Linked DNA regions of Homo sapiens: region 2 is linked to region 1. The links come from fine-mapping of genetic effects on gene expression. A gene starts in region 1. The other region holds a variant in brackets. All regions are shown on one strand. Distances are from middle to middle.

Evidence for each region. PIP is the estimated chance that this variant, and not a neighbour inherited with it, causes the effect.
Region 2: its variant is fine-mapped to the expression of OCLN in whole blood (TOPMed, PIP above 0.99).

What each region holds. Positions count from the first base shown.
Region 1 is chr5:69,489,036-69,498,380 of GRCh38, forward strand. It overlaps OCLN (occludin), which reads left to right and starts at 3,755. Exons shown (of 9, transcript NM_001205254.2): 1 at 3,755-3,865.
Region 2 is chr5:69,463,278-69,472,622 of GRCh38, forward strand. It overlaps the pseudogene RPS27P14. Among named protein-coding and RNA genes, the nearest start is that of OCLN, 25 kb to the right of the region's middle. The variant C/T (reference allele first, on the strand shown) is at 4,155.

The sequences.
Region 1 (9,345 bases):
AGTCTCTTTGTTTAAATATGGATTCCTCCCAGGAGGATCTTGCTTAACACATAGGAATAGAGAAGATAAAGGTTTACTCATCTAGTGTAATCATCCTTTTAGAAATTGTCTTCCTAGTGGCTTCCCCATAAATTCTTCCATACACCTGTCCAAGGAAACTGTCCTGTGTGGACCAGAAGCCTCCCCCTCCTCATGACTGGGCAGAGAAACTAGAGGCCTTTCAGGCCAGGCCCTCAGCAACTCCAAACTGAGTTGCCTTGGACACATACCAGTCTTTGAATTCATTTACTAAGCAGGCAAGGCAGAGTGGAAACAGTGGAACTATGTTAATCTCCCGTCTTTTCTCCTCTAAACCCTAGTACTAGAGATGTAAGCCTTGAAATGCTACTAAGGAACGTGCGGGTTTCACAATAGCAGGAGGCCATCTGAGAGGAGGACAAGACTCCACAGGCATGTTGGATTTGGGAAGCAGGGCTATAGTCATTCATTCATTCATCCAACACATAGTTATGTAATTCCTATGTGACAGGAACTATTTCAGGCATATAGGATACAGCAATGGCTTGCTCAATTTATTGAGACTTGTTTCGTGGCTCAGCATATAGTCTGTCTTGGTGAATGCTCCACATTCCCACCAACAGACTTATAAAGACAGTATTGTTTATTATCATCTCAAATTTACGGTGGAAAAAAATGAACCTTACATAGTTTAATTTCCTTTAGTCCTACCCAGCTACCAAGTAGCAACACTGGAATTTGAACTGAGATTTCTGACACCATAATCTGAGCTCTTAAGTTTCTCTTTTACACATAGAAAAGGAGAAACAAATTGTCTTTTCATCTTATCCATTTGACTGCAGGTAAAGTCAACAAGTTTCTAATCATGGGGTTCTGAAAATAATATTTACATTGCTCTGAGTCACGGGGATTTTCATCAAATAATATTCAATAGTGGATACTACTCAATACTACTGTGAGTTGCCAAGAAGGAATATTTGGTAAAAAATATAGTAATTAAATTTTGCTATAATTTATGATTATGTAACATGATTAAATTGAGCATGGCATCATTTAACATCCAACAAATTTTGTTTTGGTATTGAAGAATGATGTGTTTAAGTTTTAAGGCTGGATTTTCTTTCTAGACACTTTCAACTATGAAATATACACAATATTGGACAATAGTTAACCGTTCTTTTGATGTTGTTGTTTAGAAAATTAATCTCAAGCGAATAAAATAGAATTCATACAATTAATGAATCCTATTATTCCATATGGATGAACTCAGAACTAACTAGAAAGTAAGTTTCACAGAGATTTTTGAGTTTTGTTCACTCGTGTGTGTACAGATTAGGCACTCAGAAAATAGTTGAAGGAATGAATTGGGAAAGCAAATAGAATATGAAAGCCTTCTACCCAACACAACATGTCTTTGAGTTTAGGTTTAGGGTGGGAATAAGAAAAATAACATGATATGCATAAGTTATCTTAAAATGATAAAAAGTTTAATTTAAAAACCTAATTTACCAAGAGAACCGAAAACATATGTCCACACAAAAACTTGTACACAAATGTTCATAGTAACATTATTCATAACATCCCCAAAGGAGAAACAACCCAAATGTTCATCAACAGATGAATGATTAAACGAAATGTGATACATCGATACAATGGAATATTATTCAGTTATAAAAAGGAATGAAGTACCAATACATACTACATCATGGATGAACCTTTAAAATATTATGCTAAGTGAAAGAAGACAGACACAAAGGGCACATATTGTATTATCCATTCATATAAAATGTCCAGAATAGGCAAATTAATAGAGACAGAAAGTACATTAGTGGTTGCCGAGGGATGAGGGGAGAGGGGAAATGGGGAGTGACTATTAATGGGCATGGGGTTTCTTTTGGGGGCGATTAAAATGGAATTAGATGGTGGTGATGGTTGTACAATCTGGTGAGTATACTAAAACCCACTGAATTGTACGTGCCCTTTAAAAGGGTGAATTTTATGGTATGTGAACTCTCTTTTATAAAGTGGAAAAAAACTCCTAAGATCTCTTCAGAACATGTCAAAATACATTATAAAATAATAGACATGTGTTTACAAATCTGAGAGTATTAGGAAATGTTCCCTTGTTTAATTATAAACCAAATGGAATGTTTGGAGATTTCAGTAATCTGACAGGGAACATTAAGGGGATTAACCTGACTTCCCCAGTGTTAACAATACCAATTTAAACTGCATCATTCAAAAACTACATAGTCATATTAAAGCATTTGTAGCAATGACTTCCACGAAAAAAATACCAATTAAATTAATTACCCATTAAAGCTGCCATCATCTGAAATACCTCATATTTATATAGTGCTTTTACTTCCTCAAGTATGAATTGTGCCTTAAGATCTAATGTATGGGAGAGTCACATCTCTAACCATTTAATTAAAGGTAGAGAAGTGGGTGGGATTGGATAGAAATTTATTAGCAATGCTGACATTCCAGATTGGAACACAAAGACAAGCAGGATGTAAGAAACCTAAAAGTTCGCTTTCAATGCAGATAGTTAAATGCCAAGAACTATAATTGCCACATCCTGGAGTACAATTAAAAAATATGTTGAAAAACAACCAACATACATAAAAATATACACAGTGTTAAGTGCAGACTATGAAATTTCCCTTGGAAACAGAATCCAGATCAAGAAATAGAATACAGCACCCGGAACTAAGGTGCTTTTTCGTTTTCTTAAAAAAAAAAAAAAAGTAAACCAAGTTTATTTTGCTTTTTAAGTAGTGTTGTTCTTAAAGCACTACAGGTTGGTAAACAACGTATAAGGTGCTTTTTCTCAGGCCAAAGAGCCATAATAGTTTAAATTTCCCGGTCCTCAAGAGCGGACCGGGTGGGCAGGAGAGGACCCTGGGGTGGTGATGTGTAAACTGTATTATGCACTTTAGCCTGCTGGATGGCAACTAACACCTACAGTAGTTCACCCTCATTTTAACCCCTCTAAGTAATTGTCTCTTATTCTGAATCTAGAGATTCAGAAACAGCGCCAATGTTTACACACGACTTTTGAAATTTTCCCAGGAGTCTTTCGTTGGAGCAATACATCTAGATGCCTTTTTCCAGCAACAGTTTAATCAAATTCTGGAAGCAGAAAAGTGTCCTGTGAGGACGTGCCTTTCCTATCAAAGTGCTGAGTGCCTGGACCCTCTTTCCGGAGGAAACAGTCCCCTCTGGACCTCGTTCGGCCTCTCTCCATCAGACACCCCAAGGTTCCATCCGAAGCAGGCGGAGCACCGAACGCACCCCGGGGTGGTCAGGGACCCCCATCCGTGCTGCCCCCTAGGAGCCCGCGCCTCTCCTCTGCGCCCCGCCTCTCGGGCCGCAACGTCGCGCGGTTCCTTTAACAGCGCGCTGGCAGGGTGTGGGAAGCAGGACCGCGTCCTCCCGCCCCCTCCCATCCGAGTTTCAGGTGAATTGGTCACCGAGGGAGGAGGCCGACACACCACACCTACACTCCCGCGTCCACCTCTCCCTCCCTGCTTCCTCTGGCGGAGGCGGCAGGAACCGAGAGCCAGGTCCAGAGCGCCGAGGAGCCGGTCTAGGACGCAGCAGGTGGGACTCGCGGCGCTGGCCCGCAGGCTTCCCGCACCCCCTTCCACGTTGGTGCGCATGCCCGGGGGCAGGGCCGGTTGTAGGGAGGAGGGAAAGGAGAGGGAGAAGGGGGAGGAGACGTCCCCAGCCCAGTCCCCGGCTGAGCGCTGGCGGTCGGTGCGGCGTCAGGTGCGCCCGCCAGGTGAGCGCGCTCCCTGGCACCGTTGGCCCCCGGAGGGTCGGGCCCAGTTGCGGCGAGCGGGTGAGTGTTGGGCGCGGCGTCAGGGGCGCACGGGAGCCCGAGGGTCCCCGTGGGGGGACCGCGGCGACTATGTTAGGGGAGGTGCCGGGGGGAGGACGCTCCGCGCTGGTTTCGGTGGCAGTTTCGTCCCCGAGCTGGGACTCGTGGGAACCAGAGAGGCGCGGGTCTGCGGAGAGAGCAGCACCGGCCAACTTGGGAGGCTGCCTCCTGGGGCGAGGGGTGGCTTGGAGCCGCCGATCAAGCTTTATTCCGCGGAAACGCTGAAAGCTAGCAGTGCCTCAGCGGCGCGGGCAACTTTTCACTTTTATGGGGCACGACATTCCTGAACAGCGACGATCCTGCATCCGCTCTGGGGCTGCAGTTTGGGGGGGCGGCCTTCATGGAGAGGGATCCTGCGCCCAGCTCCTTGGGGGTCCTAAGCCTGAGGCTGCAGCGAGGCGGCTGTTCGGCGGCCCGGGCGGCTTAGATCCCGGGGGGAATTTCATTCCTTCCGCTCCCACCCCACCCCTTTGGATATCCCGGGGAGACGGGGGCTGGATTCAATCTGTGAAATATTCCAGGAGTCACGGTGTGGGCCACACTGGCTACTTCGAATCCACTTGTTGCGAGTTGTGTGAACCCGCGTCGATTTAAGCTGGGGGGCGGGGAGTTAATTTCGAGTGAGGCTGGACTTCGAGGGAAGCTGCTCACGCTTCGGATTCTCATCCGTGACCAAAAGGGCTGCCCCCAGGGGGGCGGAACTGCCTCCGGGCGGTGCCTGCCCGGCGAACGTGGGCGCGCGCTGCCTGGGAGCGCCTCGGTGCGCACGGAAGCCGGGACCCGCGCCCAGCCGGGCCACGGAGTTTGGGGACCTCCGGGACTGGGCCGGCCCCGCGCGCCAGCCATGTTGCCTGCGTCGGAGGAAGCGTGCGGGGAGCAGGGGTCGAGGGCCAAGATGGCCTCTGCGCCTAGGGGTTGGGAGCGGCGCCGAGCCCCTCGCGCTCCTCGGGAAGCCACCGGGCCCGAGGGAAAAGCCGCGGCATCCTTAGGCCGGACCCGGGGCTCGCTGGCCACACTGCCCGCTTGGGGAATTACCCTGCTCGAGGAGGAGGCGGCGGCTTTCCAGGCCAGTCAGTGTGTGGCCCTTAGGCAACAGGTGTATTATTGGGATACCTGGAAAAGAGAAACGTTTCCCATGAAGGCACTTATGGTGTTTTTTGGTGATTCTTGGTGTGATAGAAAACTAGGCGTTCCCAAGTGTAACAATAGTAACAGTAGTTCTTTTGCACTGTACATATGAGGTGCTTGTGTGTGTGTGTGTGTGTGTTTTTCCGAGACGGAGTCTGGCTCTGTCCCCCAGTGCAGTGGCATCATCTGGGCTCACTGCAACCTCTGCCTCCCGGGTTCAAGCGATTCTCCTGCTCAGCCTCCCGAATAGCTGGGATTACAGGCACCCACTAGTATGCACAGCTAATTTTTGTATTTTTAGTAGAGACAGGGTTTTGCCATTTGGTCAGGCTGGTCTCGAACTCCTGACCTCAGGTGATTCGCCCGCCTTGGCCTCCCAAAGTGCTGGGATTACAGGCGTAAGCCACCACACCCAGCCTTTATGAATATTTTCTTAGTGGTGCTTTAAAATAGACATCTTAAGTGTGTGTGGGAGGCAGAGATATTTCCTCAAACAAAGCAACACTTTTTTTTTGGTCGTTTTGCAATTTATTTAGTTATTAGGGGCCTCCTTTGTTAGGTGACGGAGCAGAGGATAGGGAGATCGGTAAGACATGATTCTCCACCTTTTGGCAGTTTCCAGGCCATTTCGGGAAATAGTGGGCAGCAGTGCCTCCTGCACGTGAGGCACTGTGGTAAAAGCATTCTGTATTTTCTCATTTAATTATCCCAACAACTCTAAAAGGCAGGCCTTAGTAGAACTCCATTTTAAAAGTGGGCAAATGCCGTGGGGGAAACGTTGCAGGTGGGCTTGCTTGCAAACTGCTTCAGCTAATATGGGAAGGAGTATCAGAAGCAGCGGTCCTTGATATTCCAGAACCAGATTTGGGGAATTTTTCTGGACTTTTCTACCATTGACTAGTAACTGTAGCCTGATACAAGATTTCCCGCATTTTGCTTGATATCAAGGTAAAATTCTTGTTTTCTTCTAAAGGTAGTGTTGGAATTACTACCTTTTCAAAATAGTATATTACTTTTAACCACATAAATGATCTGATGTAATATCTTTCATCTTCCTAGGAACCTCCCAGAAGGAAGTTTTCTTCAGTTGCATTTTAAGGCTTATTTGATTGGAATATTAATGGATCTTTTTCATCAAATTACTATTTATGGAAATAAGAGAGTAAACAGACCATGCAGATTTATGTTAGGCTTTTTGTTTTAACCCCTAGGCTTGCCGCTGTTCCGTAACCCAGTGATTCCAGTCTTGGCTGTGGTATGAATCACTTAGGGATCCTATTAAAACACAGATTCTGATTGGGAGGTCAGGAGTGGGGCCTGGGATTCTGCCTTTCTAACAGGCTCACAGGTGATTCTCAGACTGTTCTGTCTTCTTTTTCTCCCTTTCTCTTAGACTCTACGCACTTAATTACATTTGACAAACTGAAGTTGGAAAAAATAACGTTTATTGAGTGTTGTGTGAAGAACTTCAAGGCATTCACTGCTGGATTGAAATCCCAACTCTAATAATTGACTGTTGGTTTTATTAATTGAGTACTCATTGACAATCACTTTGTGCCAGGGCTAGTTCCAGCGACCAGGGATATAAATGATGGTCAAAATAGACATTTGATGTCTGGGATATGGGCATTCCAGATGCGGTGGAGATGATACCTATATTTTAGGTATGAGGGCAGAGGGGAGTTTGCTCTGAAAAAAAAAACAAGTTTTGTGTGATGGAGTGAGGGACAGGGAGGGCATCTCCCAGAAGGTGACGTCTGAGCTGAGACCTGAACAGCAGGTGTCTGTTGTGTAAAAGATCTGGGCTTTCTAGACAGGAAATTGCAAGATCAATGTCCTTTTTGGATTGACACCTTTATTGTAGACAGCAATTCTCAAAATATGTGATGTGTTTAAAAATCACCTGGAAGATTTATTAAAAATACAATTTCTGACACAGAGTCTATTACAAAATCTGCCTAACTTCAAATTTTTAGACAATTTACTAATGATGTGCCTGTAGTCTAAATCATTTAATATAAGGCACAACTTAAACTTTTTTTTTTTTTTTTGAGACAGAGTCTCGCTGTCTCCCAGGCTGGAGTGCAGTGGCACGATCTTGGCTTACTGCAAGCTCCGCCTCCCGGGTTCACACCATTCTCCTGCCTCGGCCTCCCGAGTAGTTGGGACTACAGGCGCCTGCCACCATGCCCAGCTAATTTTTTGTATTTTTAATAGAGGCGGGGTTTCACTGTGTTAGCGGGGATGGTCTCGATCTCCTGACCTCGTGATCCTCCCGTCTCGGCCCCCCAAAGTGCTGGGATTACAGGCGTGAGCCACCGCGCCCGGCCACAACTTAAACTTTTTAAAGGCAAATTGACAGTTACTGCATGTGCTCTAAAAGGAACAGACTTCTCTTAAATACAATAAAGTTTATTTTTCACTTATTGACAGTTTTCTTTAAAGAATAATTTGAGGCCAAAGCATTTTCAGACTATTTTTTCTTTTTTTATACTTTTTTTTTTTTTTTTTTTTTAAGATAGATAACGGAGTCTTACTCTGTTGCCCAGCCTGATCTTGAAGTTCTGGGCTCAAACAATCCCTCTGCCTTGGCTTCCCAAAGTACTGGGATTACAAGTGTGAGCCACCTTGCCCAGCCTCAGCCTGTTTTTTTCATCTTAGCTTAGTTTTCCATTAAGACAGCTTTTGGTCAGTAAACATTGTCAAGGGGAGAACACTTTATATTTTATCATTAGCCCAAGATGCTGGTTTTCAGATTAACATATTTGACAAGGATCTATCTGCTGCTTCCCTTTTGCCCCCGACTCTAATTTAGCTGTCTGACTTCTGTCCTTGTCACTCTCCTGACATAAGTTCCTGTAGGTGATAAGTGGCCTCTTCATTCTCATTTTTTCCTTCACTCAACACATGTACAGATTGTTAATGTTGCTGTGCTGGGCATTGGTCCTCTTTCACCTTTGGCTGCTGGCCTTAAAGCACAGTCACAGATTCACTTTGAAAGAGACCTTAGAAGTCTTCCAGTCTGGTCTCCAAAAAAATATCAAATAACTTAAGCTTTGCATAAATTGCATGAGCTCAAATTGTTGTTAGTTATTTTCGGAGAGGGTGTGGGGTCAGGGTGAGGGAGAGGCTTCCTAACATTGAGATGAAATCAGCCTGTGGTTTTTGGAATTTTTTTTTTTTAACCATTTCTAGGATAACAAAGACAGCTCTTCATATATTTCAGGGCTGCTAAAGCGATTCTTCTGACGTTAAGTTCTCCAGGCCAAACATTTCCTGTTTTTCCAATCATTTGTCTTAAGACATGGTTTTTCTAGATTTTTTTTTTTTTTTTTTTTTGAGCCAGAGTCTCACTGTGTCGCCAGGCTGGAGTGCGGTGGCACAATCTTGGCTCACTGCAACCTCTGCCTCCTGGGTTCAAGCAATTCTCCTGCCTCAGCCTCCCAAGTAGCTGGGATTACAAGCACACACCACCATGCCCAACTAATTTTTGTATTTTTAGTAGAGACGAGGTTTCACCGTGTTGGCCAAGATGGTCTCGATCTCCTTGTGATCCACCCGCCTCGTCCTCCCAAAGTGCTGGGATTACAGGCGTGAGCCACGGTGCCTGGCCAGCTTTTCTAGATCTTTAATGATCTTAGTCACCCTCCTGGAGAGGCACATAGTTTAGAATGTGATGTACAAATCAGGTTTTGTTTGTTCTTTTTAATAGCATATTATTCCTAGATATGAGCACTATTTCTGTGAATAAAGTTTGGGATAGGTTGTTAGCTTTTGTTGAAATTCTTACCAAAGAAATGCACCTTTAAAAATGAACCACTTTGGGAGGCCGAGGCGGGCGGATCACGAGGTCAGGAGATCGAGACCATCCCGGCTAAAACGGTGAAACCCCGTCTCTACTAAAAATACAAAAAATTAGCCGGGCGTAGTGGCGGGCGCCTGTAGTCCCAGCTACTTGGGAGGCTGAGGCAGGAGAATGGCGTGAACCCGGGAGGCGGAGCTTGCAGTGAGCCGAGATCCCGCCACTGCACTCCAGCCTGGGCGACAGAGCGAGACTCCGTCTCAAAAAAAAAAAAGAACGATTATTAAATTAGTTCTCCTCTATACTGTACTATGGAATTGACTTTTTAAAAATTCAGTTTATGGCTGGGCATGGTGGCTCATGCCTGTAATCCCAGCACTTTGGGAGGCTGAGGTGGGTGGATCACCTGAGGTCAGGAGTTTGACACCAGCTTGGTTAACATGGTGAAACCCCGTTTCTACTAAAAATGCAAAAATTAGCCTGGCCTGGTGGCATGTGCCAGTAATCTCAG
Region 2 (9,345 bases), 26 kb before region 1:
TAATACATATACTATATTATATGAATATATAATACATATACTATATTATATGAATATATAATACATATACTATATTATATGAATATATAATACATATACTATATTATATGAATATATAATACATATACTATATTATATGAATATATAATACATATACTATATTATATGAATATATAATACATATACTATAGTATATGAATATATAATACATATACTATAGTATATGAATATATAATACATATACTATAGTATATGTATATAATACATATACTATAGTATATGTATTATATATTCATATAATATATTATATATATATTCATATAATATATTATATGTATATAATACATATATTATATGTATATAATACATATATTATATGTATATAATACATATATTAGATGTATATAATACATATATTAGATGTATATAATACATATATTAGATGTATATAATACATATATTAGATGTATATAATACATATATTAGATGTATATAATACATCTAATATATTAGATGTATATAATACATATAATATATTAGATGTATATAATACATATAATATATTAGATGTATATATTAGCCAGATGTGGTGGAGCAAGCCTGTAGTCCCAGCTACTCTGGAGGCTGAGGCAGGAGGCAGAAGGATCACTTGAGCCCAGGAGTTCCAGGTTGCAGTGAGCCATGATCTCACCACTGCCCTCCAGCCTGGGCAACAGAGCAAGATCCTGTGAAAGAAAGAGAGAAAGAGAGAGAGAGACAGAATGAGAAAGAGAAGGAAGTACTATACTTTTACATGTATATAGTCCTTAGTCCTTATCATTTTTTTTTTTTTAAGATGGAGTCTTGCTCTGTCACCCAGGCTGGAGTGCAGTGGCACAATCTCGGCTCACTGCAACCTCCACCTCCCAGTTTCAAGTGATTCTCCTGCCTCAGCCTCCCGAGTAGCTGGGACTACAGTTGCCCACCACCATGCCTGGCTAAGTTTTTGTATTTTTAGTAGAGACGAGGTTTCACCATGTTGGTCAGGATGGTCTCGATCTCTTGACCTCGTGGTCCACCCGGCTTGGCCTCCCAAAGTGCTGGGATTACAGGCGTGAGCCACCGCTCCCGGCCCTATCCTTTCTTAAATACTTTCACATAACTCATCTCAGGATTGACAGACCTTGATAGCGCCTTAAATCCTGGAGAGAGAGAATTCTGAAGAGGCTACAATAGGATGGAATAGTCAGAACATTTTTGAAAAAAAACAGGTAAGACTGCAACCAGGCATGGTGGTTCATGCCTGTAATACCAGCATTTTGGGAGAACAAGGCGGGAGGATCACTGTAACCCAGGAGTTCAAGGCTGTGGTGAGCTATGATCACACCACGGCCCTCTAGCCTGGGTGACAGAGTCAGACTCCGTCTCTAAAAAAATAAAAATAAGGCCAAGGCGGGCGGATCATCTGAGGTCGGGAGTTCAAGACCAGCCTGACCAACATGGAGAAACCCTGTCTCTACTAAAAATACAAAATTAGCTGGGTGTGGTGACGCATGCCTGTAATCCCAGCTACTCGGGAGGCTGAGGCAGGAGAATTGCTTGAACCCGGGAGGCAGAGGTTGCGGTGAGCCGAGATCACGCCATTGCACTCCAGCTTGGGCAACAAGAGCATAACTCTGTCTCAAAAATAAATAAATATTAAAAAATAAAAATAGGCCGGGGTGCAGTGGCTCACGCCTGTAATCTCAGCACTTTGGGAGGCCAAGGTGGGTGGATCACGTGAGGTCAAGAGTTCAAGACCAGCCTTCCCAACATGGTGAAACCCTGTCTCTACTAAAAATACAAAAATTAGCCAGGTGTGGTGGCGTGCCCCTGTAATCCCAGCTACTCAGGTAGCTTAGGTGGGAGAATTGCTTGAACCCAGGAGGTGGAGGCTGCAGTGATCCGAGATCTTGCCGCTGCACTCCAGCCTGGGTGACAGAGCAAGACCCCATCAAAAAATAATAATAAATAATAATAAATAAAAATAAAGGTAAACAAATATCTCATTTAAGTTTACTCTGTTACCTAATATATTAGAAAGTCTTATCTTAAAGTTTTGTTGTCTTGAATCTTTTCTGTGGGGTCATAATTAAAATAAATCTTCCAACCCCTAAGTAAGTTCATATCTCCTATTGTTCAGGTAAGATAATTTTGAAGTCAACAGATTGTTGCTCTCTTACCTGACACAGCTGGGATCAGTAATTAGAATGTCAATTCAAAAAAGTAGATTAAAGCTAAACATCAAAAAGTGACATATGGGTGCCATAGTTTGTCTTAATTTTTTTTCATTTTTCATTTTTCATTAATTAATTTTTTTTAGAGACAGAGTCTCGCTCTGTTACCCAGGTTGGAGTGCAGTGGTGTGAACACGGCTCACTGCAGCCTTGACCTTGTGGGATTAAGTGATCCTCCCACCTCAGGATCCTGAGTAGCTAGGACCACAGGTGTGTGCCACCACGCCTGGCTAATTTTTAATTTTTTCATAGAGAGGGGGTCTTGCCATGCTGCCCAGGCTGGTCTCAAACTCCTGGGCTCACAGGATCCTCCAGCCTCAGCCTCCGAAAGTGTTGGGATTACAGGCGTGAGCCACCCTACCTAGCCAACATTTTTTTTTTCTAAAGCAACATCATTATGAGTCTTTTAACAATTAACTTGATTTTTATAGAAATACCTTTTTGTTTGTTTGTTTGTTTGTTTGGGACAGAGTCTCACTACGTCGCCCAGGCTGGAGTGCAATGGTGCGATCATAGCTCACTGTAACCTCTCCCTCCCAGGTTCAAAAGATTCTCCTGCTTCAGCTTCCTGAGTAGCTGGAATTACAGGTGCATGCCACCACACCTGACTAATTTTTGTATTTTTAGTAGAGACAGGATTTCATCATGTTGGCCTGGCTTGTCTCAAACTCCTGACCTCGTGATGCACCCACCTCCACCTCCCAAAGTGCTGGGATTACAGACATGAGCCACCGTGCCCAGCCTAGAAACACCTTTCTGTTGGGGTCATCATATTTTATTTTATGTTATTTGTGTGGTTTTTGTTTGTTTGTTTTTATGGCAGGGTCTCACTCTGTAGCCCAGGCTGGAATGCAGTGGCATTGAGAATTGAAGCCAGCTGGGCTTCTGGGTTGGGTGGGAACTTGGAGAACTTTTCTGTCTAGCTAGAGGATTGTAAACACACCAATCAGCACTCTGTGTCTAGCTAAAGGTTTGTAAACACACCAATCAGTACTCTAAATATGCACCAATCAGCGCTCTGTGTCTAGCTAAAGGTTTGTAAATGCACCAATCAACACTCTGTAAAAATGCACCAATCAGTGCTCTGTGACTAGCTAAAGGTTTGTAAACACACCAATCAGCACTCTGTAAAAATGGACCAATCAGCACTCTGTAAAATGGACCAATTAGCACTCTGTAAAATGGACCAATCAGCAGGACGTTGGCAGGGCCAAATAAGGGAATAAAAGCTGGCCACCGGAGCCAGCAGCAGCAACCAGTTCGGGTCCCCTTCCAGGCTGTGGAAGGTTTGTTCTTTTGCTCTTCACAATAAATCTTGCTGCTGCTCCCTCTGGGTCCGCACTACCTTTATGAGTTGTAACACTCACTGCGAAGGTCTGCAGCTTTGCTCCTGAAATCAGTGAGACCACGAACCCACCGGGAGGAACAAACAACGCTGGATGCGCCACATTTAAGAGCTGTAACACTCACTGCGAAGGTCTGCAGCTTCACTCCTGAAGTCAAGCTAGACCACGAGCCCACCGGAAGGAAGAAACTCTGGACATATCTGAACATCTGAAGGAACAAACTCCGGACACACTACGTGTAAGAACTGTAACACTCACCACGAGGGTCTGCAGCTTCATTCTTGAAGTTAGCGAGACCAAGAATCCACCGTAAGGAACCAATTCCGGACACAGCATGATCTCAGCTCACTGCAACCTCCACTTCCCAGGTTCAAGTGATTCTCCTGCCTCAGCCTCCTGAGTAGCTGGGTTTACAGGTGCATACGATCATGCCTGACTAATTTTTGTGTTTTTGGTAGAGACGGGGTTTCACCATGTTGGCCAGGCTGGTTTTGAACTGCTGACCTCAGGTGATCCACCCACTTTGGCCTATCCAAGTACTGGGATTATAGGC[C/T]TGAGCCACAGCAGCTGGCCCGCATCATATTTTATCATTTAAATAATATTTAATTAAATCATACACATACGTACACACATGTAGTAGCAAGTACAAGTGGGAATAACAGGTTTAGGTACAACACAACTATTGCTAACCACCCATCTCCACTATTGAGAGCAGAAGTAGTGTTCTCTAGAAACAGGCCTTCTAGGGTGCTGAGGTCATCATAAGATGCTTAAACTGAGCTTGTATGTTTCAGAATTAGCTGATATTTTTTAAATGGTCTCTTATTAAGTAAATAACTATCAAATTTCATAAGATATGAATTTGAGGACTGAAACTGTATTAGTCAGAACGGCTTTGGTTTCTAATAACAGAAACTCAAATCAGCTTATGCATACAAGGGACTCTTTTGAATTAGAGAACTGAGAAGTTTAGGAGCTGACTTGGCTTCAGGGTTCCCTTTCAGTCTGTTTCTCTCATCTTCACTGCTTCTCACAGCATATTTAGTCTCATGCTGTCATGTTTAGACTTTCTCTGTGTAACTGCGGAAGATGCCTGGTGTCAGCTCCAGTACATAAGCACGTAGTGGGTTACAGGGAAGTGGCTCTCTTCCAGCAGCTTTCTATCATGTCTCTGGAAGCGTCTGATAGGTCTTGGTTTGGGTTATGTGTCCATCTTTGAACCTATCACCACATCAGATGAGGCAGCCTGGATCTCATATCCGCTAATGTGTGGGCAGAACACAATCCCGTCAGGACCTCATGGAATGGAAGAAAGATAAGGTTTTTTTTTCTTTTTCTTTTTCTTTTTTTTTTTTTGAGATGGAGTCTCACTCTGTTGCCTAGGCTGGAGTGCAGTGGTGCGATCTTGGCTCACTGCAATCTCTGCCTCCCGGGTTCACGCCATTCTCCTGCCTCAGCCTCCAGAGTAGCTGGGACTACAGGCGCCTGGCACCACGCCTGGCTAATTTTTTTGTATTTTTAGTAGAGACGAGGTTTCACCGTGTTAGCCAGGATGGTCTTGATCTCCTGACCTCGTGATGCACCCACTTGACCTCCCAAAGTGCTGGGATTACAGGCATGAGCCACTGCGCTGGGCTGAAGAAGGGTGAGTTATAAATGAAAAGCTGCATGTGTGCTCTAATAGAAGCTAGACATGCAAAAACCACAGATGCCTCCAGCATAGACCATGCTTTTGTTACCATAATAGCAGGTATTCAGTCTAAGTCCTGCTCCTCATAGCACAGAAAACCAATCACTGAGACAATGAGTATTGCCAAGGAAGAAAGCTTTAATTGGGTGCTGCAGCTGAAGACATGGGAACTAGTCTCAAATTCATCTCCTGACTGACTATAATTAGGGGTTAATCTAGCAGGGAAGAAATGTAACTATGCATGGGAAAACAGGAACTCAACTTGAGAGGGGTAAGGAAGCAATCATGATGAATGAAGGGCCTGGTGTCTCATTGTCTGGATGCAACGATCTGGTGAGTTTCAGTTCTTTTTCTTCAGGTACTTTTTGAGAGGCTTTTGAGGGTCCTTTCCTGAGGAAGGAACTCAGATAATACAAATGTAAGGTTCAAGCTTAAGACCAGAACTGTCTATGGGACTATTGAGTTGGTTTCACCTTAGCTATTCTTTAATTCCCTCCTAAGACCAAGCCCATGGAAGCAGCTTGCCCTTAAATATTGAATGGCTCAACTGCTAGTAGCACTTTATTCTTCCAAACATTTTCACAGACTGATAAGGTTTGGATGTTTTGTCTCTTCCAAATCTTATGATGAAATGTGATCCCCACTGTTGGAGGTGGGCTAGTGTGAGGTGTTTGGGTCATGGGGGCAGATTCCTCATAAATGGGTTAGTGCTGTCCTCACAATAATAAGGGAGTTCTCGCTCTGAGAGCTCTTGAGAGCTCTGGTTGTTTAAAAAAGTGTGGCACCTCCTCCACCTCCACCACTCACTCTCACCATGTGACATGTCTGCTCCTGTTTTGCCTTCTGCTATGAGTAAAAGCTCCCTAAGGCCTCACTAGAAGCCAAGCAGATGCTGGTGCCATGTTTCCTATACAGCCTGCAGAACGGTGAGCCAATTAAACCTCTTCTTTTTCCTCTCTCCTTTTTTTTTGAGACGGAGTTTCACTCTTGTCGCCCAGGCTGGAGTGCAATGGTGCAATCTCAGCTCACTGCAACCTCCGCCTCCCAGGTTCAAGCGATTCACCCGCCTCAGCCTCCCAAGTAGCTGGGATTACAGGTGCCCGCCATCACGCCCAGCTAATTTTTGTATTTGTAGTAGAAATGGGGTTTCACCATTTTGGCCAGGCTGGTCTTGAACTCCTGACCTCAGGTGATCCGCCCACCTCGGCCTCCCAAAGTGCTGGGATTACAGGCGTGAGCCACTGTGGCCGGCCACCTCTTTTCTTTGCGAATTACCCAGTCTTTTTCCAGCGGTGACGACCTACCCAGGAGAACATGCCTCTCACAAAGGATCTCCTTCATCCCTCTCCAGAATAGGGGAAGAGGAAACACAAGAAGCAGTGCCTGATGCAGAGCCCCAATTCCTACTTCATGGGTGTAAATGCCCAGGATGGTACAAAATCATCACAGTCTTTAGCCATGCACTAACAGAAATTTTGTGTGTTGGCTGCTCCACTGTCCTCTGCCAGCCTACAGAAAGAAAAGCAAGGCTTACAGAAGGATGTTCCTTCAGGAGGAAGCAGCATTAAAAAGCACTCCGAATCAAGATGAGTGGGAAATCATCTCAATAAACACTTTTTTTTTTTTGAGACTGAGTTTCACTCTTGTCGCCCAGGCTGCAGTGCAGTGGTGTGAGCTTGGCTCACTGCGACCTCCGCCTACCAGGTTCAAGCAATTCTCCTGCCTCAGCCTCCTGAGTATCTGGGATTACAGGCATGCGCCACTATGCCCGGCTTATTTTGGGGTTTCATCATGTTGGCCAGGCTGATCTTGAACTCCTGACCTCAGGTGATCTGCTCACCTCGACATTCTAAAGTGCTGAGGTTACAGGCATGAGCCACTGTGCCTGGCCTCAATAAACACATTTTGGATAAAAAATAAATAAATTACCCAGTCTCTGATATTTCTTTATAGCAATGCAAATGGACTAACACAGAGACATTATTGTGAGTGGTAAAGGCAGATTAAATGTCTTGCTTAGAATTACACAGCTGCTACTTGACTTCAAATTATACTATGAGACTACAGTAACCAAAACAGCATGGTACTGGTACCAAAACAGATACATAGACCAATGGAACAGAACAGAGGTCTCAGAAATAACACCACACATCTACAACCATCTGATCTTTGACAAACCTGACAAAAACAAGCAATGAGAAAAGGATTCCCTATTTAATAAATGGTGCTGGGAAAACTGGCTAGCCATATGGAGAAAACTGAAACTATACCCCTTCCTTATAGCTTATACAAAAACTAAGTCAAGATGGATTAAAGACTGAAACATAAGACCTAAAACCGTAAAAACCCTAGAAGAAAACCTAGGCAATACCATTCAGGACATAGGCATGGGCAAAGAGTTCATGACTAAAACACCAAAAACAATTGCAACAAAAGCCAAAATTGAGAAATGGGATCTAATCAAACTAAAGCGCTTCTGCACAGCAAAAGAAACTATCATCAGAGTGAACAGGCAATCTACAGAATGGGAGAAAATGTTTGCAATCTATCCATCTGACAAGGTCTAATATCCAGAATCTACAAGGAACTTAAACAAATTTACAAGAAAAAAACAAAGAACCCCATCAAAAAGTGGGCAAAGGATATGCACAGACACCTCTCAAAAGAAGACATTTATGCAGTCAACAAACATATGAAAAAAAGCTCATCATCACTGGTCATTAGAGAAATGCAAATCAAAACCACAATAAGATACCATCTCATGGCACATGTATACCCGTTAGAATGGTAATCATTAAAAAGTCAGGAAACAACAGATGCTGGAGAGGATGTGGAGAGAAATAGGAATGCTTTCACCCTGTTGGTATGAGTGTAAACTAGTTCAACCATTGTGGAAGATAGTGTGGCGATTCCTTAAGGATCTAGAACCAGAAATACCATTTGACCCAGCAATCCTGTTACTGGGTATACACCCAAAGGATTATAAATCATTCTATAAAGACACATGCACATGCATGTTTATTGCAGCACTATTCACTATAGCAAAGACTTAGAACCAACCCGAATTCCCATCAATGATAGACTGGATAAAGAAAATGTGGCACATATACACCATGGAATACTATGCAGCCATAAAAAAGAATGATTCACGTTGTTTGCAGGGACATGGATGAAGCTGGAAACCAACGTTCTCAGCAAACTAACACGGGAACAGAAAACCAAACACTGCATATTCTCGCTCATAAGTGGGAGTTGAACAATGAGAATACATGGACACAGGGAGGGGAACGTCACATACCAGGGCCTGTAGGGGGGTGGGGGAGAAGGGGAGGGAGAACATTAGGACAAATACCTAATGCATGCGGGTCTTAAAACCTAGATGACGGGTTGATGGGTGCAGCAAACCACCATGGCACATGTATACCTATGTAACAAACCTGCATGCTCTGCACATGTATCCCAGAACTTAAAGTATAATTTAAAAAAACTACGCAGCTGATTTCTGACAGAGCTGAGTTCATAACTGGATTTCCTTTGGATGTTTCCCTCTTTTCTTCTCTTGTGTTGCCAGAACTGATATCAAAGGGAAGGAATACAAGAGAAATATTCAATTTCACTACTTCTTTGATAGTTTGATATGTTGTCCCTAGAAGGCCATGATAATGATATGTTGTCTCTAACTTTCAGGCTAATTATAGGTACAGATAATGGGTGGTTATTTGGACTATTTTAAAAAATAGAGACAGGTTCTCACTATGTTGCCCAGGCTGGTCTCGAACTCCATGGCTCAAGTGATCCTCCCGCCTTGGCTTCCCAAAGTGCTGGGATTACAGGTGTGAGCCACCACACCCAAACTTTTTTTTTTTAATAGGTTCTCACTTTGTCACCCAGGCTGGGGTGCTGTGGTGTGATCATGGCTCACTGCAGCCTCAACCTCTTGAGCTCAAGCAATCTTCCCACCTCAGCCTACCAAGTAGTTGGGACTACAGGTGCTTGCCACCACACCCGGCTAATTTTAAAACTTTTTTCGTGGAGATAAGGTCTTGTGCTGCCC